Linked DNA regions of Homo sapiens. The protein of the gene in region 1 purifies or fractionates together with the protein of each later gene. This does not show direct contact. Each region holds a gene or a part of one and is shown in the gene's direction. Other genes may lie near its edges.

Region 1 (8,009 bases):
TCAGGAAAGTCTAGATAAAATACATGTTTCAGAAGAAAAATCAATGTCTGGATTGGTTTTTTAAGAATGAAGAAGTAATTAAGGAAGAGGTTCCTTAACACTTACGCATTTCAGACTCCTCCAAAAATCACATTGCTAAACTTGGACGTATCCTTTAAGAAACTTCCAAGAAAAAAACTGGCATGTGCTACATACAGTATCTTATAAATGACTTTCTGGCCAGGCACGGTGGCTCACACCTGTAACTGGGGGCCGAGGCAGGCTGATCACTTGAGGTCAGGAGTTTGAAACCAACCTGGCCAACATGGTGAAACCCTGTATCTACTAAAAATACAAAATAATTAGCCAGGCATGGTGGTGCGTGCCTGTAGTCCCAGCTACTCAGGAGGCTGAGGCAAGAGAATCGCTTGAACCCAGGAGGTGGAGGTTGCAGTGAGCCAAGATCATGCCATTGCACTCCGCCTGGGTGACAGAGTGAGACTCTGTCTCTAAATAAATAAATAAATAAATAAATAAATAAATAAATAAATAAATGACTTTCCTTTTCATGATAACTGCTGCATTATAGTATTATAATCCTTTACTTTGAGGCTTTTTGTCTGCTAAAAATGTTGACGTTTTCATTCTTGTCTGAGAGAGGAATAATAATTAATTTCATGTTTTTCAGGTAACTAAGCAAGACAAGAACCTCATAAAGCCGCTTTATGACCGATACAGAATTATCAAGCAAATCTTGTCAACACCTTCCCTTATTCCAACAATTGTAAGTCAGGATACTTGCATGCTGTTACTTTGTACTGATGTGTAGTTAACAGGATGTCACATAGTAGTACAAGAGTTATAAAAGACCCTTCATGGCAGTATATACTGCAAACAAGGCTAGTTGTCATTTCAAAAAGTGAAAATTTGGTCTTCTCTAACCCCATTACTATATTTAACAGTGGCTGATATTAGAACTATTGTAAAATAGGAACATATAGCACTTGTATGTCTAGAGCCAATTTTAACATTTGCTTTCATTATCTTGGGTGAAAAGAAATGATAGATTTCAGTTTGGCATTTTCTAATTTGTAACACAGCTAGACAAAACAGAGCCTTTCTGTTCTGTGTGTTGGTTAATTTTTTCCTTTAATCAGAAAATTAACAATATATTCTTGATATAATGCAACATTTGTTTTTGGTACCATTTGACCATACTGTACAAGATATGAGAAGATTTATTTCAATAGAAAATATAAGTACTGAAATTGAATTAGGCTACTTTTAATAAAGAATGATTTATGGGAATACAGAACTAGAAAAGCATCACAAATCCTACTCCATCAATATCAAAACAGTTACTTGTTCAAGATATCAATATAAAAAGGAATAAATATTAACAAATATAAATTTAAGTATGCTTGGGTACATTTATACTTCCACTTTTTTTGAGACAAATTATACTTCCACATTTTTAAAGACATTAAGTGAATAATAATTCATAGTCTTTGGAATTTTCCCTTTATGGAAGCATAATTTAAAATGTAGTAAGGTTCTTATATTTCTTGCAAGAGAATCTTCTAGTTGTGATAAGAATTATCAGAACAGTTGAGGAGTAACCCCACTTTGCTTTGGCCTTCAAATAGCTCTCCCCTGAACTTGTCAATTTACTGAGTATCCTCTGTATCTGAATGTTGGTCCCCACTGGGACCTGACTTGGGGTATTTCTGGAGGATAAAAGTTGTCCGTAGTCCACCTTATCTTAACTCATATCACAAGTATTAAGCTGGAGCCCAGAAGGTCTGAGTGAAAGGGAGGAACCACTTGGTAGTATAGTCCAGACTGGACCATATCCTAATGGTCTGTGCCTTCATTGGCCCAGAAGACACAGATGAACTTGGTGAGTGTTTTAGCCCAGCATGACTGCTGCCTTTTTGCTCATTAACTTCTGTAGGTTTTTAATGAAACTGCGGAAGAGCTCCTCTTGGTTTCTTCCATCCCAGTTCTCAGTAGGCACATGGGTCACCTACTGGTTTTCATGGCATTGATTTATAGTTCCCCTTCCTGTTTTTGTTTCCTCAAGAGGCACTGAGCATTACATGACTTTCTTTCTTTAACTCTGCCTGTGATAAGCAGGAGGAAGAGGACTCTGATGAAGACCGTCCACAGGGAAGCCAACAACCTTCTTTGGCAGATCCAGCATCTCACCTTCCTGTTGGTGACCACCTCACCTACTCTAATGAGACTGAGCCTGTTAGGGCCCTTTTACCAGATGAAAAGAAAGAAGTAAAACCACCAGCTCTCTCCATGTCTAATTTACATGAGGCTACCATGTGAGTATGAATCCTAAGTGTGGAGTCTCCTCTTAACTCCTTCTGGTCTGATACCAGTATATGAAGTAGAGCTGGCCTTTGAAAATGCTGGACTCAAAGGGGTGGGTCAACAGTTCTCAGGGCCTTTATCCTAGTCTCTTACATTTAGATGAGATAGTTTTTCCACTAGAAATCCACTTGGTAGTAAGCAAATGACTTGCCCTTTGTCTCTTAAATAGCCCTTCAGATATAAGCCATTTGGATTTTCATTAATATTATCATTATCATTATTATTATCATTATTCAGTAGCTGGCATTCCTCATGATAATTTGGCCTTCTTTGGTTTGTATCTTACAGCCCAGATTATGAGATTTAATTTAATTTAATTTAAGTTGACAGAAGTGTCTGTCAGAGAAAGCAAGTAGAAAATCATTTTTTTGGTGGTGGTTCTAAAGCAGTTATTCCTAACTTTTCAAGGGGTGTTGGGACTTCTTTGAAACCAATAGAATCATTTTAAGAAAATGCCCATGTATAATTTCAAGTTCACAGAATCTCTGAAACCATACATGAGTTTGGGTATGCTTGTGTATATACCAGATTCCTGCTCTAGAGTATATGACTTTTCTCTCATCTTGGTAGAATGAAGTGAGTAGAATTTGCAATGTAACTATCGCTTTCTTCTGGGTCTTATTTTCATTCACAAGGGTTTTGCTATTCTCCCAATATTCCCACACTTATTTCTCTAGATTAAGAATAGAATTTTCTTTAAAAGCTGCTCCTCTGTATCTCTTATGTTCAGTCTATGACCAAATGCTGATGAGTATTCCTTCAAAATATCCCTTCCCTCATCCACCTATATTGCTGTTACCCTTTCCAGTTCCTTCAGTGGATTCAATCAATCTCCTTGCCTCTTGTCTGTCCTTTCCCCTATCCTGTGATATTTTTTCCATCAGGTAATTTTCCCTGCTTATGTGCTTGCCTATGGTCAGGCTCTATGTGTGTCATATTTACTCAAAAGATACTCTTATGATGGGAACACTTTTCAATCATAGATGCTTTTTTGGCTGAACAGATAAATCTGCTCATGATGATCTCTCAATTATGCCAGTGCCCAGTAATGACAAGTATTTTACCTTATATAGGCCTGTACTTCTTGACCATCTCCGAGAAACTAGGGCTGACAAGAAGAGACTGCGGAAAGCCTTAAGAGAATTTGAAGAACAGTTTTTTAAACAAACAGGAAGGTATGTGTCGGCAGAGAGATTTTTAAAGCTAATACTTCCTAGAGAATTGCTGTTAAAAATGAGCTGCAATTTTTTGCAGGAACGGTGACTTTTTACAAAATGTATATAATTTCCACACTGGCTTAGACTCAGGATTTGTCCAATGCAACATTCTAATAGTGCCAGTATTAGGGATGTTTCATGGGACATGGTAGCTGTCAGGTATGACATCAATCTGTAAAAAATAAAGGATAAACTCCAAAAATCTCTAACTTTGCACAATAAATCTCATCATAAATAAATGAATTTATTTAAACCTTTAAAAAAATCTGTTGATTTTTTTAGCCCACATAACTGCTTTGTTGTTGGTTTCTTAGTTCCACAAGTTACTCCCTAATTTATTAAATAATAATTCCTTATTTGCTTTAAATGTCTTCCTTAAAAGTCAGGATCTGTCCCTAATTATTTTATTTCAAGAGTCGATCAAAAATTCATAGTCATTCTTTCTACTTCTTAAATAAATGGTTAGCTGTATCATCTGTCCTCTATTTTTCTGTGTCAACCCAAGTCTCATTATACACTCTATTAGTTTCCTCCAATTTTTGGTGTATCATCAACAAAATTACATATATAATCAAGAGATAAGGTTATTGATCTAATTTGGAAGAGAGATAAATTGCTTAGCTATCTTGAACCTCAGTTCCCATTTTATGAGCTGAAATGGTTGGACTCCTGGGATACTTTGGGAAGCTACAGCTGTCATGTGGGATATCAATCTTTACAAAAATAAATAAATGAAGAGTGTAACTTTCCCAAAGCCACAAGTTATTAAGTAGATGAAATGAGATTAAACTCATTATTCAACTCATAAACTCATCATTAAACTCATCAGTGCTACATGGGCTCCTCTGTATTCCTCTCCATTTAGGTATTGTATTTGACTTTTCAGTTCAGCAGGTTGAGGGTTGTCCTGATGGAAAGGGACTATTTTCCAAAAGCACCTTGAAACTCTCATGCGTGGTCTACTTACCTCTTAGTCCCTGGCAGGTTTTCCATTTTAGCCTACCAGGGATATTCTTTAGGACTGGACCTATTGAGTGAAAAGCTTTTTGCATTCAGCCAATACAGATGTAACAACTTATTTTCTACTTACAATCTTCCTTTCCAGTTGATTGCTACAAGTCCAACTTACCTTTTTGGTGATGTTAAGTAATCTAGTGAGAAATGTTATGTGGCTCATAAATTTAGAATATAAAGCATTTGTTATTTTTTTCCTTTTCCATACTTTTTTCTTTTATAAAATGTTCATGTAACTTTCCTTGTAAAATATTCCTTGGAGTAGTAACTTTGTCTGTCTGGACTGTCTGCTCCTATTATACTTTGGGTAAATATGTGACTTGCACTATAAAGTTCCTGATCTCTGCCTCTTTTGGATTAAAGGTATTCTATGGGAATTTTTCATTCAGGGAAATATTTGTGGAGATGTTATCACATATTCTAAATCTAAACAGTCATTACATATGAGAAATGACACTTTAAGATGTGCGTACACTCTTTTCATAAATTTGAGTTCCCTGAATAAATTTATATTTTTTAGCAATTTGAACTCAGGAATCTATCGTAAGGGGTTTGAGAACTTCCCAGTGTGCTACTAGTCCTGCCTACTGGATCTGCAGTGTCACTTGGTGTGCTTTTTGTCATACATACAGGGAAGTTAGTTATGTTCTATGTATAGTGTTCCACTGCACCTATGAGTCTTAAACCCACTTCAGATAAGTCTGTATTTGTCTATGAAGTTTTATGCCCCCTTGTGATGATATATTTCAACTAAATGCACAAGTGATGATCTTTTACAACTAAAATCAAACAGTTGAATGGCTAGGAAATATGGACCTTAATTTTGTTTATCTAAGACATTTTATTGGGAAGGCCTAAGCATCCATAAGTTAAAATAACCATGCAAATGGATTACTAAAATGTTTAAGGCACTATAAATGTTCTTGGTAATATTTGCCATACAAGAGGCATGAGAATCATGCAGATATTACATTATTATTAATAATTATTAGCCTGGAAGTGTGCTAAGCACTTTAGTATGTTTTATATAATGGAGAAACTCCTTCAGGAAAGACTTGGCAAAACTTTTCATTCTTGTCAAAGCACTCTTTTTTTTTTTTTTTTTTTTTTCTTTTGAGACGGAGTCTCACTCTGTCACCTGGGCTGGAGTGCAGTGACGCGATCTCGGCTCACTGCAAGCTCCGCCTCCTGGGTTCACGCCATTCTCCTGCCTCAGCCTCCCAAGTAGCTGGGACTACAGGCGTACGCCACCACGCGTGGCTAAGTTTTTATATTTTTAGTAGAGACAGGGTTTCACCATGTTAGCCAGGATGGTCTCAATCTCCTGACCTTGTGATCCGCCCGCCTCGGCCTCTCAAAGTGCTGGGATTACAGGCGTGAGCCACTGTGCCCGGCCTCAAAGCACTCTTATTAGCCAAAATGGAATATGCAAAACTACGGAAAATTACATAATTGATTATTAATGTTTCTCTGTAATAATTAGACAATTTCTTTACTTAGATCTATTTATACAAATTAAGGTGGTATTCAGACATCCAGCCATGATAAGTTTGACTCATAACACAGAATGGAGGCAAAGATATATGTTATATAATTTAGACAACAGTTAAGAAGAATGCTGTCTATGGATTTGTATACTGTTCTGAGTTCTGTACTAGAAATTGCAGGGCAATAAATAGTGTTGAAATACAAGTAGATACTATATTCTTAATTTGTATAGATTAGCTTGTTTTTTATTTGGTAAGAGATAGAAATATCTCTTTATCACTACTGGGAAAAATAGAAGGGAGCTAAAGATAAAACATTAAATATATGCTATTTACCTGGTTTCAGCCATACTAACATTAGAGAATACTTGTGGTTATATTCAGTTGTAATTGTGGTGACTATATCTGTGTCCTCTACCCCTTGAATTTCAAAGTCGTGGGTGGAAATGTTTTCAAAACGATTGGCTATCTTATTAACCAAGAAAACAAGAGCCTTCTGAGACCCTGTCGCAATTTTTCCCTTTAGAAAACGTTTCCTGACAACATATTTTTGTGGGAAGGCAAATGGTTTTAACTCCTGATATTACCAAGTTATTCTTCCAAGTAAACAGCAAGAGTATGCTGCATATGTATAAAAATCTATGCATTGTTACATGTCTAGCCTTAGTAGAATTAGTGTACAGAAGAGAACCACCACAATTTAGACTCTTGTCAATTACTTCAATCAAGGAACAGCTCAGTGGTTCTACTATATATTAGCAGAGATAGGTATTATAATTACAAGAAAATCTGGAAACGTTTCAAGTTTGTAAGACAGACCCTAAATGCTTTTCTTGTTACCATAGGTTTATGTTATTTTTATAATGAAATTCCTGTAGTATTTTCAGGTTAATATTTTTAACAACTGTATTAGGGCTGATCATTTTGTACAGCTGTAGGGGTGTGGCAAATAATGGAAGAATGACTGGACAAAGAATGCCTTGAAAGTTCTGTTTCTTGTTTGTTTGCTTCTCCTTAGATCTTTTCACTGACCCCTTTGTTGTAAGTCTAAGCACTAGACCACATATTTGCAAAACACTTATGACATTCAAGTTTTCAAAGGTTACTATTATTTAGAAACTTAGTAACACATGGAAGAAGGAGTGAATGAAGGTGAAAGGGAAGGAAAAGAAGACATGATGCAAAAACCAAGTGGAGGCCGTTACAGTATACTTTCTCATGTATGAATTATAAAAGAATGTTTAAATAATGACTTGATTCATTGTGAACTAACAAATGTATTTTTGTTTTGCAGAAGTCCACAAAAGGAAGATAGGATACCAATGGCAGATGAGTATTATGAATATAAGCACATAAAAGCCAAACTGAGACTATTAGAGGTCCTCATCAGCAAGCAAGATGTGGCCAAAACTATTTGAGGTTCAGGAAATGTTATGATCACTTTCACCCATGATATAAAGTAAAGTTTATTTTCCTCTGCCATCCTTGCTAAGTAGTTTTGACACAATGAAAATGGAAGCACTTTAGTGGTAGTATTAGCTGTTTTTAAGAAGGAATAGCAAGTTTAATTATATACAAGGAGAAGGGATTTAAACGGGGGGAAGAATACAACAGGTAGCCATATAATTGGGAAAAAATTCAGTGTCCTCCATGCCAAGCAGAAAACTCATAGTCAATACAAGTATTTTTAAAAATGTCTAATATTTTATCAAATCTAAATAACATAGCTAGGACACTTGTTAGGGAAAGTTTATTTAGTATCCAAAGACTGTTTATGTTGATGTATGGAAAAGAGCATGATTTTAAAAAATCAATCATAGGAGGAAAAGAAATTCGCTTTTCAAGTAGGAAGGAATACAGCTAGCAAGAAAGCAATTTATTTGAAACTTCTAATGGATTTTTGAGTGATAAAACATTTACTACCTTGTCC
Region 2 (8,009 bases), on another chromosome or scaffold:
ATACTCAGCAGCCTCAAGGCTATTGTAAAGCAGGGCTGAGCTTGCCTTACAATGTTAATTGCACCAAAAAAACAACTTCTCTGCTGAAAGTTAAGCAGGTGAAGCTCTGGGCAAGGATACAGCTGGATGACGAAATTCAGGGCATTGCTGAGCTGCTTTTCAGGTGCCCAATCTTTAACCTTCTTGATATTGAATTGGCTAAATCAAAATAAGTGCCCAAGACTGCCCTTTCCCTAAGTTGAAAGTCATCTCACCAAGGAACTGCAGTGTGACATTTTGATTTGTTGAGCCTTTGTTGATTCTTAGATTGTCTATGTAAATAACCACTTTGACCTTGACTCCTTACTGTTTTTCTTATAGCATATGAAGGAACTGAGAATACTAGTATTGAAATAGCTGCCTTTGGCTGTGGAACTGGTGACTGTTGCATTTGTTTTTTAACTTTCATGTATAAACATTTATTTTAAGTCACATTTCCATAGATGGTTTTCCTTACTTCATTCACATATCATCAGTTTTCTTAGTTTTGTTACTCTGCTCAGCCACACAAGGGGAATAAACTTTTTACAAGAGCCAGAATTCCCAAGTGCAGTAGTTAATAAGAAGGAACATATGGTGTGCAGGTTACTCAATCACATCTTATCTTTGGCACCTGCCTCCGTCCTGTAACTTGCGATGCTCTGGGGGCCAGATCATGTTATGTGGCTATGATATATTTAATTATAGTGTCCTTTTTCATAAGTTGACATCAAGTGAACCCAGCAAGCCAAAAATCTCTATAAGAAGTAATTTGGGAAATGGGAAGGTAAGTTCCACAGGGAATGAGGTAGTACTAGCTGAAAGGGATTTCTTCCTTGTGTTCTTGAAAATGAGTGATAGGAGTGTTGGCGCACAGCAGGGAAAACAAGGCAGGAGAGGATTTATTTCAGAAATATTAAAACTTTCTGACAATAAGGCTGCAAGCCCAAGAACCTCAACTAGATTGTGCTTACATCAGTATCAGTAATGACCGTGTTCAAACAGACCCTTTATTGCTTTTGGCAAACATATCCACCTTCCACTGGCTTTGTTGCTGTCAGGAGAGAATGAGTTGAGCCATGTTAGCACTTCTTGTCCTGAATTGTTTAAGCTCTTGATTTGGTTAATTATAGAGTACTAAAATGGAATGTTTTGGATAAAGACATGGGAATGTGGTAGCAGTATGACTCCTTTTGCCTGTTACAAGAGTACTGCTCTGAAAAGTGTTCAGTAAGGCAATTGGCAGTTGGTCTGTAATAATAGTTACCAATAATTAGCCTTTTTTTTTTTTTTTTTTTTTTTGAGACAGAGTTTTACTCTTGGTGCCCAGGCTGGAGTGCAATGGTGCAATCTCAGCTCACCGCAACCTCCGCCTCCCGGGTTCAAGCGATTCCCCTGCCTCAGCTTCCTGAGTAGCTGGGATTACAGGCATGCACCACCATGCCCGGCTAATTTTCTATTTTCAGTAGAGATGAAGTTTCTCCATGTTGGTCAGGCTGCTTTCAAACTCCCGACCTCAGGTGACCTGCCTGCCTCGGCCTCCCAAAGTGCTGGGATTACAGATGTGAGCCATTAGCCTTTTATGTGCCAGGAGTTGTCATAGGGGTTCTGTAATCCTCACAACCATACTATGAGATGTAGGTGGCATTATTTCCATTTTATAGATGCAGAAATGAGATCCTGGGAGGTTAAGTGCCTTGCCCAAGGTTATACATCTAGAAAGTGTCAGAGGTAGAACTTAAATCCAGGGCTGTCCGTCTCCAAAGCCCATGTCCTTTTCATTATGCCACAGTGATTCTAACTTCTTAGATGCTGAGTTCTTGCTTTCTCCCAGAGGTCTTTTAGAATACTAAGTGAACTCTAAGGCGTGTCTGTCTGGCTAAGGCTTAGGTCATCCCAAGACCAAAGTAAGGCAGGTCTGAGTTAGAGCTTTAGGAAGAGGATGGGAGAAAATTGTACAAATGTAGAACTTGAAAGAATTGTAAATTTAGAAGAGGAGAATAAAAGCATCTTATACAGAAAAGCATTTCAAGATCAATGATGCAGCTTCACACTGGTAATTTACTGATAATCTGAGAAATTTATCCATATTTTAAAAGTTATAAATAAATTTGGAGTACCTGAGGAATATACCCTTTCTTCCTGTTCAGCTAACACTTTTTCCCTATTCTTTAAGCCTCACCATCTCTATGAGTCAATCTTTGATAAGAGCTTTTGAAAATTGCAAAGGGAAGAATATTCCTACTGTATACCAGGCATTGTACTTAGAGCTTTACATATACTGTTTTATTTAATTCTTTTTTTTTTTTTTTTTTTTTTTGAGACCAAGTCTCGCTCTGTCACCCAAGCTGGAGTGCAGTGGCGATCTCGGCTCACTGAAACCTCCGCCTCCTGGGTTCAAGCGATTCTCCTGTCTTGCCCTCCTGAGTAGCTGGGACTACAGGTGTGTGCCACCACACCCGGCTGATTTTTTTAATTTTTAGTAGAGACTGGGTTTCACCAAGTTAGCCAGGGTGGTCTCGATCTTCTGACCTCGTGATCCACCCGCCTCAGCCTCCCAAAGTGCTGGGATTACAGGCATGAGCCACCGCGCCCGGCTATTTAATTCTTTTAAGAGGCCTCGAAGATAGCTAGTGTTCTCCTTGTTTTATTGAAGAAACTGAGTGTCGAAGAGATTAAGGAATTTGTCTCAAGGTTACACGGTAATGTGATGGAACTAACAGAGCCCTAAACTGTTGCTTTTCAATTCAAATAGTACTCTGTTCGAAACTCAGGATGAACCTTCTAAATCTTTTTTTTTTTTTTTTTGAGATGGAGTCTTGCTTTGTTGCCCAGGCTGGAGTGCAGTGGTGCGGTCTTGGCTCACTGCAACTTCTGCCTCCCGGGTTCAAGTGATTCTTCTGCCTCAGCCTCCCGAGTAGCTGGGACTACAGGTGCACGCCACCACGCCTGGCTAATTTTTGTATTTTTAGTAGAGACGAGGTTTCACCATATTGTCTAGGCTGGTCGTGAACTTCTGACCTCGTGATCCACCTGCCTCAGCCTCCCAAAGTGCTGGGATTACAGGCGTCAGCCACCACGCCTGGCCCTAAATCTTAATCTGTGTTTTTTGGGTAGTTTTTTTGTTATTGCACTGACAGTTTCTTTTTATTTATTGCGTGGTTGAAGGTCTTACCGTGTGTTTTTGTGAGCATTTATTTTCTGAGAAAGCAGCCTGAGGTGGGCAGATCATGAGGTCAAGAGATCAAGACCATCCTGGCCAATGTGGTGAAACCCTGTCTCCACTAAAAATACAAAAAATTAGCTGGGCATGGTGGTGCACTCCTACAGTTCCAGCTACTCAGGAGGCTGAGGCAGGAGAATCACTTGAATGCTTGAATGCGGGAAGTGGAGGTTGCAGTGAGCCGAGATCATGCCACCGCGCTTCAGCCTGGCGACAGAATGAGACTCTGTCTCAAAAAAAAGAAAAAAAAAAGCTGCTTTAGGAGCTGAAGTTGCAGTTGTGTGTTTGATGTCTTGAGGAAGACAATTACTACTACTACTACTACTAGTACTACCTACATTCTCAGTATCCAGTTAATTGAAGAAATCGATAGTTCATTAAAAAGGGAGAGTGAGTTTATTATATCATTTCCTTGGAAGTGATTCCCTCCCCCACGAGAGAAAAAAAGTTTGTTGTAATCTTTATTCAGACCCTTTGTCAAGTTTATAAAGAATATGCAGTTTGTTTCATGGTGGTTTTTGTTTAAATAATTTAGAGAGGTACAACTGAGGCAGATGGGAAGAGAACAATCTTGGCAGTTGCCCTGATCCACTGCCCTGCTGTCATGTTTAGGTGGTAGACACAATTAGAGGAGCTGAAATTCCATTCACCCAACAAGAGGTTTAGTAAACTTGATCAGATTTCTATGGAATTTGTAGGAGCTTTTTATAGTCTGAATGACCTATGGCCTGCGATTTGGTGAGAGCAGAGCAGAAAGCGGCAGTGGATTGACGTTTCTTCTGTAACAGTTCCCAACTCTAAAATTACTTTGATTAAATTAGATGATTATTTGTATGGGTTTCAGTCTCCCTTTTCCCCAGCTGTATCGTGCAACAGTTCAGTTAGCTATTTCCCTCTTGGACGCTTGCACTAAAAGCTGGTGATTTTATTTTCTTTTTTTTTTTCAAGGGTCTATCAGTAGAAATCTATTGGTTTGGGGCACCTAGTTCTTAGCTTAGAACCTATATAAAGGAAGGGTATTTGAACTGCTGATTGAGTTTCTCTGAGTATAGGACTTTAGCCTTTCTGAATGTTGCAAACCTGAGGCTAAAACTAGCTTCATCTTCTCTGCACACACTTACATTCTACAGTGCTCCAAGGTGAAACTTCATCTATTGACTACCTTTTCTTGGAAACTCTTCTCTTGGCTTCAGTGTCACTTATAATTGCTACCATTTACTGAATACTTACTCCGTGTCAGGAATCTCTGTCTTAGTATTTAATCCTCATGACAACTTTATCAGATGTGTAGTACTATCTTTATATTATGGATAAGAAAATATAGGCTCAAAGAGAGTAATTAACTTGTCCAAGGCTTTGTCAATGAAATGCTGGCCATAGCAATATTGGGCAGCTTTGCCTCTGTGCCAACACCCGTGCTGCTCTGACCAGACTCCCACTGAAGTCTGCTTAAGCTGCTGCTAAGACCACTTTGGATCTCACAATCTAGCCTCTTTCAAGGGGAGGCCTAAACACCATGCCTCACATCCCTGTTTGTTTCAGTCACTACCCGCCATCCGCCATCCATTATCTTCCCAATACTAATTCCTTTACCACTCTCTTCATCCTTCAGCTGATTCAGTCCCTCAAACTGTTCCACCATGTTCTTTACAATATCCCCCTCCTTGATCAGCAGATTCACATGTAGTATCAGTCTCTAGCAGCAAGATCAAGTTATAAGGGCAACAGTGGCAAGTGTTAGCACTTAGTATCCAGAACTGTGATGGTGCAAACCAAGCTGCAGCATCTCCTGCTTGGCATTAGCAATCACATCTTTGCCAACCCAGTTCTGTAATTTTGAGTGTTGTTTTAGCTGTGTAGCACTTAAGTTCTTCACTGAAAAAGTGACCTCATATCCTTTCTGTAAATTCTTTTTCTGTTTAATTCAGCCAGTGTTGACTTCTGCTGCTTGTAGAACTTGGAGTGATGTACGGGTTGAACCTAACCATCTACCTTCTTAGTTGCTGGCACTCATGGAGCTGAGAGTTGCTAGAGAAAATCAGCAAATTAGACAGATCAGTGTCATTAAAAATTTATAATCATCTATTTCATATGCATAATCAGCATTACCTAGCAATGTTATACATTTCTCTAGTTCACTTTCCAGCTCACTGCGAATTATTTCTTCATATTGTCTCTTTCTCTTTTCTTTTTTACTGAGACAAGGTCTCCCTCTCTCACCCAGGCTGGAGTGCAGTGGTACAGTCACAGCTCACTGTAGCCTCAAACTCCCTGGTTCAAGCAATCCTCCTGTCTCAGCCTCCTGAGTAGCCAGAACTACAAGTGTGCTACCACGCCTGGCTATTTTTTTATTTTTTTGTAGAGACGGTATCTTGCCATGTTGCAGGTCTCCAATTCTCGGGCTCAAGTGATCCTCCTGTCTCACCCTTCCAAAGTGCTGGGATTATAGGCATTAGCCACTGTGCCTGGCCTACTGTCTCTATTTCTTTTTCTCTTTTTTTGAGATGGAATCTTGCTCTGTCCCCAGGCTGGAGTGCAGTGGCGCGATCTCCGCTCACTGCAACCTCCGCCTCCCGGGTTCAAGCGATTCTCCTGCCTCAGCCTCATGAGTAGCTGGGACTACAGGCACGCACTACCACGCCCAGCTAATTTTTGTATTGTTAGTAGAGATGGCGTTTCACCGTGTTCGCCAGAATGGCTCAATCTCCTGACCTCGTGATCCGCCCTCCTCAGCCTCCCAAAGTGCTGAGATTATGGGCATGAGCCACCGTGCCCAGCTCTTATTTCTAATCTCTCATATTTTCTTCTTTTTTAACCAGTCATAGGCTTTATGCCTCATTATAAAAATGGAAGCTGCTGAATGGGAATTCCTTCATTCTTTTACCTCCCAAGTCTACAAACCTATGTGCATCTGGGACTCATCTTTTTCTCCTTCATTCTGTCAAGACCAATCCCTTCACAGGTGCTGTAATCATTCTTTTCTCCCCCTCCCCCCTTCCTCCTCCTTTCTTTTTCTATCTTTCTTCTCTCTCTTTCTCTTTGTTTTCATTCATTTTTCTTCAAGAGATGAAGTCTCACTCTGTAGCCCAGGCAGGAGTGCAGTGGTGTGGTCATAGCTCATTGCACCCTCAACCTCCTGAGCTCAATAGAACCTCCCTTCTCAGCCTCCCGAGTAGCTGGGACTATAGGTGCATGCCACCATACCTGGCTAATTTTTTTATGACTTTCTTGTAGAGATGGGGTCTCTTTTTTCCCCCTAGATGGAGCCTTACTCTGTCACCCAGGCTGGACTGCAGTGGCACTATCTCGGCTCACTGCAACCTCCGCCTCGTGAGTTCAAGCAATTCTGCTGCCTCGGCCTCTCAAGTAGCTGGGATTACAGGCATCCGCCACTGTGCCTGGCTAATTTTTGTATTTTTAGTAGAGACGGGGTTTCACCAGGTTGGCCAGGCTGGTCTGGAACTCCTGACCTTGTGATCTGCCCACTTTGGCCTCTCAAAGTGCTGGGATTACAGGCGCGAGCCCACACCTGGCCAAGATGGGGTCTCTTGCTATGTTGCCTAGGCTGGTCTTGAACTCCCAGCTTCAAGTGATCCTTCCTCCTTGGCCTTTGAAAGTACTGGGATTATAAGCATGAGCCGCTGCACCCAGCCACATTTTAAAAACTTTTTGTAGAGATGGTGTCTCACTTTGTTGCCCAGGCTGGCCTCGAATTCCTCGCTTCAAGCAGTCCTTCTGCCTCACCCTCCCAAAGTGCTGGGATTACAGGTGTGAGCCACTGTGCTTGGCCTCTCCTGTCTTAAAGAATTTCTTCCTTTGGTTTATTTCATCTTTCTACTAGGTCTTTTCCTTCAGAATTCACACTTGCCCTATTGTCTCCCATTTTGAAAACCCTGTCCTTTGACCTGCATATTTTCTGTTGCTGTCATGTTTTTCTATTCTCTTTCACAGGCATGCTTCTTAAAGGAGTTTTCAGTACATGCTATATGTGCTTTTTTCCTCTCATGAATTCCTTAACTCACTCCTGCTATAATATTCTGTTTAACCAAAACAAAACCCTCTTGCTAAAGTTGTTGATGTCCATTAGATTGGGAAACATGGGGGTCTTTTTTTTCAGTCCTCATCTTCTTGGACCTCTTAGCAGCATTTGACATTGACTCCTTGTGAAACACTCTTTTCCCTTGGCTTCTGTGACACCGATCTTTACTAGCTTCCATCTTATTTCTCTAGCTGCTCCTTCTCATTCTTCTTCTTTTTTTTTTTTTGAGGCAGATCTCACTGTGTTGCTCAGGCTGGAGTGCAATAGTATGATCACTGTAAACTTGAACTCCTGGGCTCAAGAGAGGCTTCCACCTCTGAACCTAAAGGACTAGGATTACAGACATGTGCCACCTCATCCAGCCTCCTTCTCATTCTTCTTCTTCTTCTTTCTCTTGAGACAGGGTCTCACTGTGTCACCCAGGCTGGAGTGCAGTGGTACCATCATGGCTCACTGCAGCCTCAACTTCCCAGGCTCAAGCAATCCTCCCACCTCACCCTGTGGAGGAGCTGGGACTACAGGCACATGCCACCATGCCCAACTGATTTTTGTATTTTTTGTAGAGATGGGGTTTCGCCATATTGCCCAGGCTGGTCATGAACTCCTGGGCTCAAGTGAGCTGCTCACCTCAGCTTTCCAAAGTGAGTTTTATAATAACTTGTACATAAATAAAAGCATACTCTCTATACATTGTTTTGCAGGTTCCTTTTTTATTCAGTAGCACATCTT
Region 3 (8,009 bases), on another chromosome or scaffold:
TATTAAGGGAACGCAATGTGAAATAATCTAACCAAACACATTGGAAACATTTGTACTGAAATGGCTGGGTGGTTTGGGGTATGGAAATATTCTTGTTTGTGGCAGACATTGAAAAAGTGTTTTTGAAAAGCCCTGCCCCAGAAGTCTTGACGCTGAGTGAAATATGGGTAATTTTTCTTTGGGGGATCAATGAAATAACTATTTTCAAAATGACTTTATATTGAGTGAAAGGTCAGAAATGCCGTAGGCATTGATCCTGTGTCCATAATCACTTTTTGTTTAGTAAGTTAACCGGCCCTACACAGTTGAATGCAAAGAAATCCAGTTCCTCATTTGAAGATAATATTTTTAAAGCATTTGACATCCCCTCAACTCGCATTGCCTGCTGGAGTCTCACTGGGAATGCCTTTCTTTGTCTAGGAAGTGGACCTCTACAGAATGAACAGCCAGGACAAGCTGGGCCTCACTGTGTGCTACCGGACGGACGATGAAGACGACATTGGGATTTATATCAGTGAGGTACAAAGGCTGATTTTGTTTTTCTAACTATCGTATCAAGACCAAAAGGGTTTTTTTTTTCATGTTCACCAACCCTAACCCACCTCATCAAGATCTCTTTGGAAAGACACAAATTATTCTGTCCCCCTCATCACACTCCATGGCGCTGCATCTTTCCACGGAGGTTAAGTTCTAATGCCAGTACTTATGGCAAAATTACCCTTGAGAAGCCTGCAAATCAGCCATAAAATGGAGCCGTTTACATGGTTTTGTGTGTTTAGCCCCAAGGGAAGAGCAGATTCACATTTCCCAACTCGTGTTCATTGAGTGGAATGGTGGATGGAATCACTTACACTTTTTAAAGCCTCTCTCTCTCTCTCTCTCACACACACACACACACACATTTTTTTTTCTCTTGGTGGAGTATATATAGTTGACTTCATATAAGTTAAATGTGACTTGTATGTACTTATCAAACTACATAGATGCACGCTGTTTTGATCTTCCTTGAGAAGATAATACAAATCAACTGATTTCAGTATGGAAACTTTACAGTGCACACCCATCCTTGCAAACACAGAAACCCAATTTTGTCAGGAAATAAAATTTGTCGCTACAGAATGATCTACTAGACTTAATAATTATCTCTTTGGTTGTATGTCATTCACCAAGCTTAAGTTAACCCATCCTTTCTGCATTTGGGGACATCCCTCCCCTTACCAGTCCCCCTTGTCCCAATTATATTTCAATTTTAAAGTTATTTTCCAAATTTTAATACAAGTATTTGGTATAAAATAAGGTATAGTTGCTAGTCCACATAATGAAGGGTATCCTTTAACCTGTTCTACATCATTGATTTGATTTTAATTACCATGCATGCAACAAAAGTCAGCTGTGCCTCCTCAGATCAGCAGAGCCTGCACACACTGCTGTGTAACAGGGTTGCTACACAGGGATCCAAGAACCAGCCCTAGAAAGGGCTTAGAAGCAGATCAGCTCATGTTTGCCTCTCCTTGCACGACACTAAGTCTTGTTTATTTCTGTGCAAAACAGAAACACAGGGGTGAGCATGACTGTGTTTTAGAAATGGTTTTGAAAGTGCTGTTGCTTATTTTCATGCATGTCTGCGTTTGCGCTGAGATGGTCCATGTGTGTTTCAGATTGACCCTAACAGCATTGCAGCCAAGGATGGGCGCATCCGAGAAGGAGACCGCATTATCCAGGTAAGTCCACTTCCAAACAATGGCCTCATGATGGGCCTATCACTAAAGAACAAACTGGTTCTAATGATAGGTCTAGGGTTGAAAATGCAGAAGCGGTTAAAGAACAGGGATCACAAACGCAGATGTGTAGTGAGGCCAGACAAGTTAAACTAATTGTGAGGCTATCTCTGAGTCATAAGACGCAAGAGGGAGTGGTGAGGACTGGGACAAACTAGATGGGGCATGTTCTCTCCAAAGAGGGCCTTGCAAAATTTGAGCCAGTTCTCCTTATTTTGTTTCATTCTGTTTGGATCAAAACAAACATCAGTGAGCCAAAGTCAGGCCAACAGTTTACAACTTGTGAACTAAAATAATTCTCGTTTTAGATTTCTCTGAAAGATTAACTTTGGACCAAGCATTTCAGAGGCTCGTCCATAAAAGGGGAACATTTTTGGCAAATTTAGCAGCATCGATTGAAAAGTCTTAGAAATTTTCTGACTCAACATCTAACCATCCTGGAATCGCTTCTAAGGGTCATTACTTGACCTCGAGCCCTGTTGCTCCGTCTAGTCCAAATGAGACCATTCATGTCTCTTTTGGCTACAACCTTCTTTAATCTCACAGAATTGAAATTCTTGGCTTCATTGTGTCCACAAGGCTTAGCTTTCTACCTCTTCTCATCCGTATCCTCTCATTCTTAATCCACTGTGTTTTTCTCATTGCATACCTCACCACAGGTCATTTTGATTTTCTTCTTCCACTGCCTACTCTGGGTTTCTCTAGCCTTCAGCCAGAACCTGTGCTGCTCAGGATCGCTTGCCCTAGGGAAGTGACCCAAACCTTCACACCTGAAGGGTCAGGGTCCTCAGCATACTGCCTCTTTTTTTTTTTTTTTTTTTTTTTTTTGATTGCTGGAGTTTTCCATTAACCTTTACTACTGAGAATGGAAGCACTCAGAGGTACTCCAAGGAATCCCCTAGGTTCCAGACACAATCCTCCCTGCCTCCACTGTGTCACAGCAAGCCCATCTTCCTTGGTAATTGAGGGCAATCACTCCAACCAATAGAGTCACCCCTTTTGCTGCCTGTTGGCTCACTAGTGTAAGGAGGCATATGGAAGCCTCCACTTCCAATTCAGTGGAACCATTGCTGTGTCCCCTGGAGGCGGCGTTCCACCAGGACTAAGACCTCCAGACCAGCAGGGCTCAAAGTCACCAGGACATGCAAGCAAAAATCCTGCAAGAGGGTTAATCAAGTGTGATAGTGAGAGTGTCACGCCCACTTGACCCTCCGCCTGGCCCAAAGAAGTTTAAGTGTCAAACTGGGGACACAAAACACCATGTATAATTCTATTCCATTTTCTTAACCTCAGTTTGCTGCTTTTTCTTCTATATTATCCAATAATGTCTACATATACTCCTGCCTGAATATTATGTCTAATTGCTTCCATGTTCCCTCTGCAGAGCATTATGATTTTTCTCAGTGCCGTCTTCTGGAGGTCCAGCCCCTTCTGTTCACACCCCACACATCACAGTCACCTCATGAACTATACTCATGGAGGCTCCCTTATAGACCAGAGAAACTGCATTGGTCTGAGCAAGACCTTTCCTTCCTAACATCAGTATTCTTTTCCAGCTACACGGAAGTTGTATGTTCTAACTGTGAGTGGGTGACAAATGCAGGTCTGAAATAAAATAGAATGATTTTGCACCATCTAATCATGCTATTTGTCTCCCCACTCTCCCCACCCCCCCTTTTTTTTTAAAAGATTAATGGGATAGAGGTGCAGAACCGTGAAGAGGCTGTGGCTCTTCTAACCAGTGAAGAAAATAAAAACTTTTCATTGCTGATTGCAAGGCCTGAACTCCAGGTAAATTGGCTTCCTACAGATGAAACTGGGTCTATATTTCTAAAATCAAAAGATCCCCAGGCCTGCAAAAGAGCACCTGAGTATTGGCTGCGAACTTGAAGGTGCTTTGTTCCCTGGAAATGTAATCAAACTTGCTGTGATTCAGAATTCACTTTATGAGTTAGCCATTTAAGGTTGGTTAGATGCCCACCCTGGCATCTATACTGCAGGCCCACGACGTTCATTAATGCAGGGATCATAGGGAAGGAAAAGGAAACAGAATTGAATGGAAAACACAACCGGGGTCACGTCAAGACATTTGACTTCCCAAGGCCTGACATATGTTCCAGCCTTGATCTGTGCAGGTTTCATTTACAATAGCAGAGTATGGGGAATTAAAACTTGCTCTTTCAAATTAAAAGAAACATTGAATGATAAATAATTAAAACTGATATGACCACCGAATAAGTGCTAGGCCCTCCGTGGAGCACTTTACACACAGGAGAGCCTTCCCAGGAGATGGAAGTTCCCAGAGATTCAAAAGTTACCCAGGAAAGGCCCAGAAGGAGGGTGATAAAGCAGGGAGGGGTTCAGGCCCAAGTAATCTGATTCAGAAACCTCTGTGTTGTAATAACTCCTTCCACAGGAGGAATCATGAACTCACCCAGGTGGCACTCTTGATCCACTTAGAATGGCTCCAGCAACACATCTAGGGCAATCCAGTAGTAGATCTCTTTAGGTATGTGTATTAGTCCGTTTTCATGCTGCTGATAAAGACATACTCGAGACTGGGTAATTTATAAAGAAAAAAGAGGTTTCATGGACTCACAGTTCCACATGGCTGGGGAGGCCTCACAATCATGGTGGAAGGCAAAAGGCACGTCTTACGTGGCAGCAGGGAAGAGAGATGAGAACCAAGCAAACGGGGTTTCCCCTTATAAAACTATCAGATCTCATGAGACTTATTCACTACCATGAGAACAGTATGGGGAAAACTGCCCCCATGATTCAATTATCTCCCACGAGGTCCCTCGCACAACACGTAGGACTTATGGGAGCTACAATTCAAGGTGAGATTTGGGTGGGGACAGCCAAACCATATCAGTATGAAACCCGATTGAAAAAGCCGAGAGACAGACAGTGGCATACGGGGCATCTGATTCTCCACAGATGGGAGCCTCATGAGCTCAAAGGGAACTTCAGCAATCATCTCACCCACAGTCACAGACTTTTTCTTAAAGGGCCAGATAGTAAATGTTTGACTTGGGTGGCCATACCATCTCTGCCATGACTGCTAGACTGTCACTCTAGTGCAAAAGCAGCCATAGACAATTATGTCAGCGAATGAGCATGGCTGTGTTCTCATTCAACTTTTTTTATTATTATTTATAAAAATACCAGGCTGGATTCAGCCCATGGGCTATAGAGTGCCAACTTCTGAATAGTTCACTCTTTTTTGGGCAAGGCAGATAAAGGCCTCTTAAAAGTGATATCCAGCCAGGCTCAGTGGCTCACGCCTATAATCCCAGCATGTTGGGAGGCTGAGGCAGGAGGTTCACTTGAGGTCAGGATGAGGCCAGCCTGGCCAACATGGTGAAACCCAATCTCTACTAAAAATACCAAAATTAGCTGGGCATAGTGGCGCATTGCCTGTAATCCCAGCTACTCGGGAGGCAGAGGTTGCAGTGAACCTAGATCGTGCCACTGCACTCCAGCCTGGGAGACAGAGTGAGATTCTGTCTCAAAAAAAAAAAAAAAAAAAGTGATATCTTGCCCAAGCCAAACAGCTAGTTACTGTATCAGAAAGAACTCTTTTCACACTGAAAATCATTTTTCTATGGGACCTGTTAAACTCGTGTCTGGTCCAGCAAGCAGGTGGACCAGCTAAATCTACCTGACCCTCCTACACAGGTGTCCTACTGCACTGAAGGTAGCTGAGATGGATGAAAGAGTTTCACCCTGAAAAAAAAAAATCATGGATATTAAAGACTTCCCCAGATGTAGTGTAGGGTTGGAGGTCTGTTTAATGTAAGGGTTGGATAGTTTCCTGACTTAACAGCAAATCATTGGGCAGACTGCATTTTGATGACTCTTGGAGGAAGCCCTAGAAATATTTTCCCCCAAGGTAATGTCATTTTTAAAAAAACATAAATGAACATGAAAGGAAACTTCTAAGGCATGTGTTGGCTGCTCTTGCCTGCAGCTGGATGAGGGCTGGATGGATGATGACAGGAACGACTTTCTGGATGACCTGCACATGGACATGCTGGAGGAGCAGCACCACCAGGCCATGCAATTCACAGCTAGCGTGCTGCAGCAGGTAACGCCCACGCACCAGTCCCTGACACTCTGCCCTGCTGAGCTGGAGGAAAATCTGCTTCCTCCATCTCCCTTTATGGTGCTAAAGACCATCAGAAGTCCATCCACCTGGAAGGCAGCAAGAAAACAGCCTCAAGTACTTTTCTATTTGAGCACCAGACCAGTGAAATGCAAGCTGGTACTGTCCCTAGCTAAGCTTTTAAATCTAAGCAACATTGCCAAAGCAAAGCTGACCTTCTGATAATTTGTTTGGAAAACATATGCGTTGGCATTACCATAGATTGCAAAAAGCCATGTTTTCCAAAGTAAAGCAATCCCCTCTGTTTAACAGGAGCTGCTTGGAGCTCTCTAGCTCCCTGCTATGCTACTACCATTGTCAGAGTCTTAATGAGCCACTTATTGAGTCCTTATTGAGTTGAACAAGGACCTTTATACATCCTTCTACCTGTGTACTGATTCATTTAACAGAATCATTGAGAATCATTCATTGAGATAAAGTGACTATTATCCTCATTTTACAAAACTGAGGACAAGAACAAGAATAAGTGACTTGCCCAGGTAGATACGGGTAGGTGTAGCTAAGGCCCACGCTATTGACGTGGTCCTACTGTCAGATGCTGTCCCTTGGCCTTAGAAATGTACAGCCTGCCCTATCCAGAAACCGCAAGGAAAGGTCAAACCTGAGTACCTGCTGCGCAGGCCTCCCTCACTGTGACCCTTTGTTCTTGTGTTTATGCAGAAGAAGCACGACGAAGACGGTGGGACCACAGATACAGCCACCATCTTGTCCAACCAGCACGAGAAGGACAGCGGTGTGGGGCGGACCGACGAGAGCACCCGTAATGACGAGAGCTCGGAGCAAGAGAACAATGGCGACGACGCCACCGCATCCTCCAACCCGCTGGCGGGGCAGAGGAAGCTCACCTGCAGCCAGGACACCTTGGGCAGCGGCGACCTGCCCTTCAGCAACGAGTCTTTCATTTCGGCCGACTGCACGGACGCCGACTACCTGGGGATCCCGGTGGACGAGTGCGAGCGCTTCCGCGAGCTCCTGGAGCTCAAGTGCCAGGTGAAGAGCGCCACCCCTTACGGCCTGTACTACCCTAGCGGCCCCCTGGACGCCGGCAAGAGTGACCCTGAGAGCGTGGACAAGGAGCTGGAGCTGCTGAACGAAGAGCTGCGCAGCATCGAGCTGGAGTGCCTGAGCATCGTGCGCGCCCACAAGATGCAGCAGCTCAAGGAGCAGTACCGCGAGTCCTGGATGCTGCACAACAGCGGCTTCCGCAACTACAACACCAGCATCGACGTGCGCAGACACGAGCTCTCAGATATCACCGAGCTCCCGGAGAAATCCGACAAGGACAGCTCGAGCGCCTACAACACAGGCGAGAGCTGCCGCAGCACCCCGCTCACCCTGGAGATCTCCCCCGACAACTCCTTGAGGAGAGCGGCGGAGGGCATCAGCTGCCCGAGCAGCGAAGGGGCTGTGGGGACCACGGAAGCCTACGGGCCAGCCTCCAAGAATCTGCTCTCCATCACGGAAGATCCCGAAGTGGGCACCCCTACCTATAGCCCGTCCCTGAAGGAGCTGGACCCCAACCAGCCCCTGGAAAGCAAAGAGCGGAGAGCCAGCGACGGGAGCCGGAGCCCCACGCCCAGCCAGAAGCTGGGCAGCGCCTACCTGCCCTCCTATCACCACTCCCCATACAAGCACGCGCACATCCCGGCGCACGCCCAGCACTACCAGAGCTACATGCAGCTGATCCAGCAGAAGTCGGCCGTGGAGTACGCGCAAAGCCAGATGAGCCTGGTGAGCATGTGCAAGGACCTGAGCTCTCCCACCCCGTCGGAGCCGCGCATGGAGTGGAAGGTGAAGATCCGCAGCGACGGGACGCGCTACATCACCAAGAGGCCCGTGCGGGACCGCCTGCTGCGGGAGCGCGCCCTGAAGATCCGGGAAGAGCGCAGCGGCATGACCACCGACGACGACGCGGTGAGCGAGATGAAGATGGGGCGCTACTGGAGCAAGGAGGAGAGGAAGCAGCACCTGGTGAAGGCCAAGGAGCAGCGGCGGCGGCGCGAGTTCATGATGCAGAGCAGGTTGGATTGTCTCAAGGAGCAGCAAGCAGCCGATGACAGGAA

What was found.
Region 2: the proteins of FAM13C (region 1) and AHCYL2 purify together in Homo sapiens (affinity purification with mass spectrometry; 3 studies listed by BioGRID and IntAct, with this or other methods). This does not show direct contact.
Region 3: the proteins of FAM13C (region 1) and PDZRN3 purify together in Homo sapiens (affinity purification with mass spectrometry; 2 studies listed by BioGRID and IntAct, with this or other methods). This does not show direct contact.

What each region holds. Positions count from the first base shown.
Region 1 is NC_000010.11:59,247,102-59,255,110, reverse strand, and holds part of FAM13C (protein FAM13C), read left to right. Parts: intron 1-667; coding exon 668-763; intron 764-2,112; coding exon 2,113-2,312; intron 2,313-3,434; coding exon 3,435-3,536; coding exon of another isoform or gene 3,537-3,624; exon of another isoform or gene 3,625-3,942; intron 3,943-7,340; exon of another isoform or gene 7,341-7,373; coding exon 7,374-7,497; 3' UTR 7,498-8,009.
Region 2 is NC_000007.14:129,227,765-129,235,773, forward strand, and holds part of AHCYL2 (adenosylhomocysteinase 3), read left to right. Parts: intron 1-8,009. UniProt on the Homo sapiens protein: May regulate the electrogenic sodium/bicarbonate cotransporter SLC4A4 activity and Mg(2+)-sensitivity. On the contrary of its homolog AHCYL1, does not regulate ITPR1 sensitivity to inositol 1,4,5-trisphosphate.
Region 3 is NC_000003.12:73,383,528-73,391,536, reverse strand, and holds part of PDZRN3 (E3 ubiquitin-protein ligase PDZRN3), read left to right. Parts: intron 1-420; coding exon 421-519; intron 520-1,658; coding exon 1,659-1,721; intron 1,722-3,467; coding exon 3,468-3,569; intron 3,570-5,751; coding exon 5,752-5,868; intron 5,869-6,606; coding exon 6,607-8,009. UniProt on the Homo sapiens protein: E3 ubiquitin-protein ligase. Plays an important role in regulating the surface level of MUSK on myotubes. Mediates the ubiquitination of MUSK, promoting its endocytosis and lysosomal degradation. Might contribute to terminal myogenic differentiation.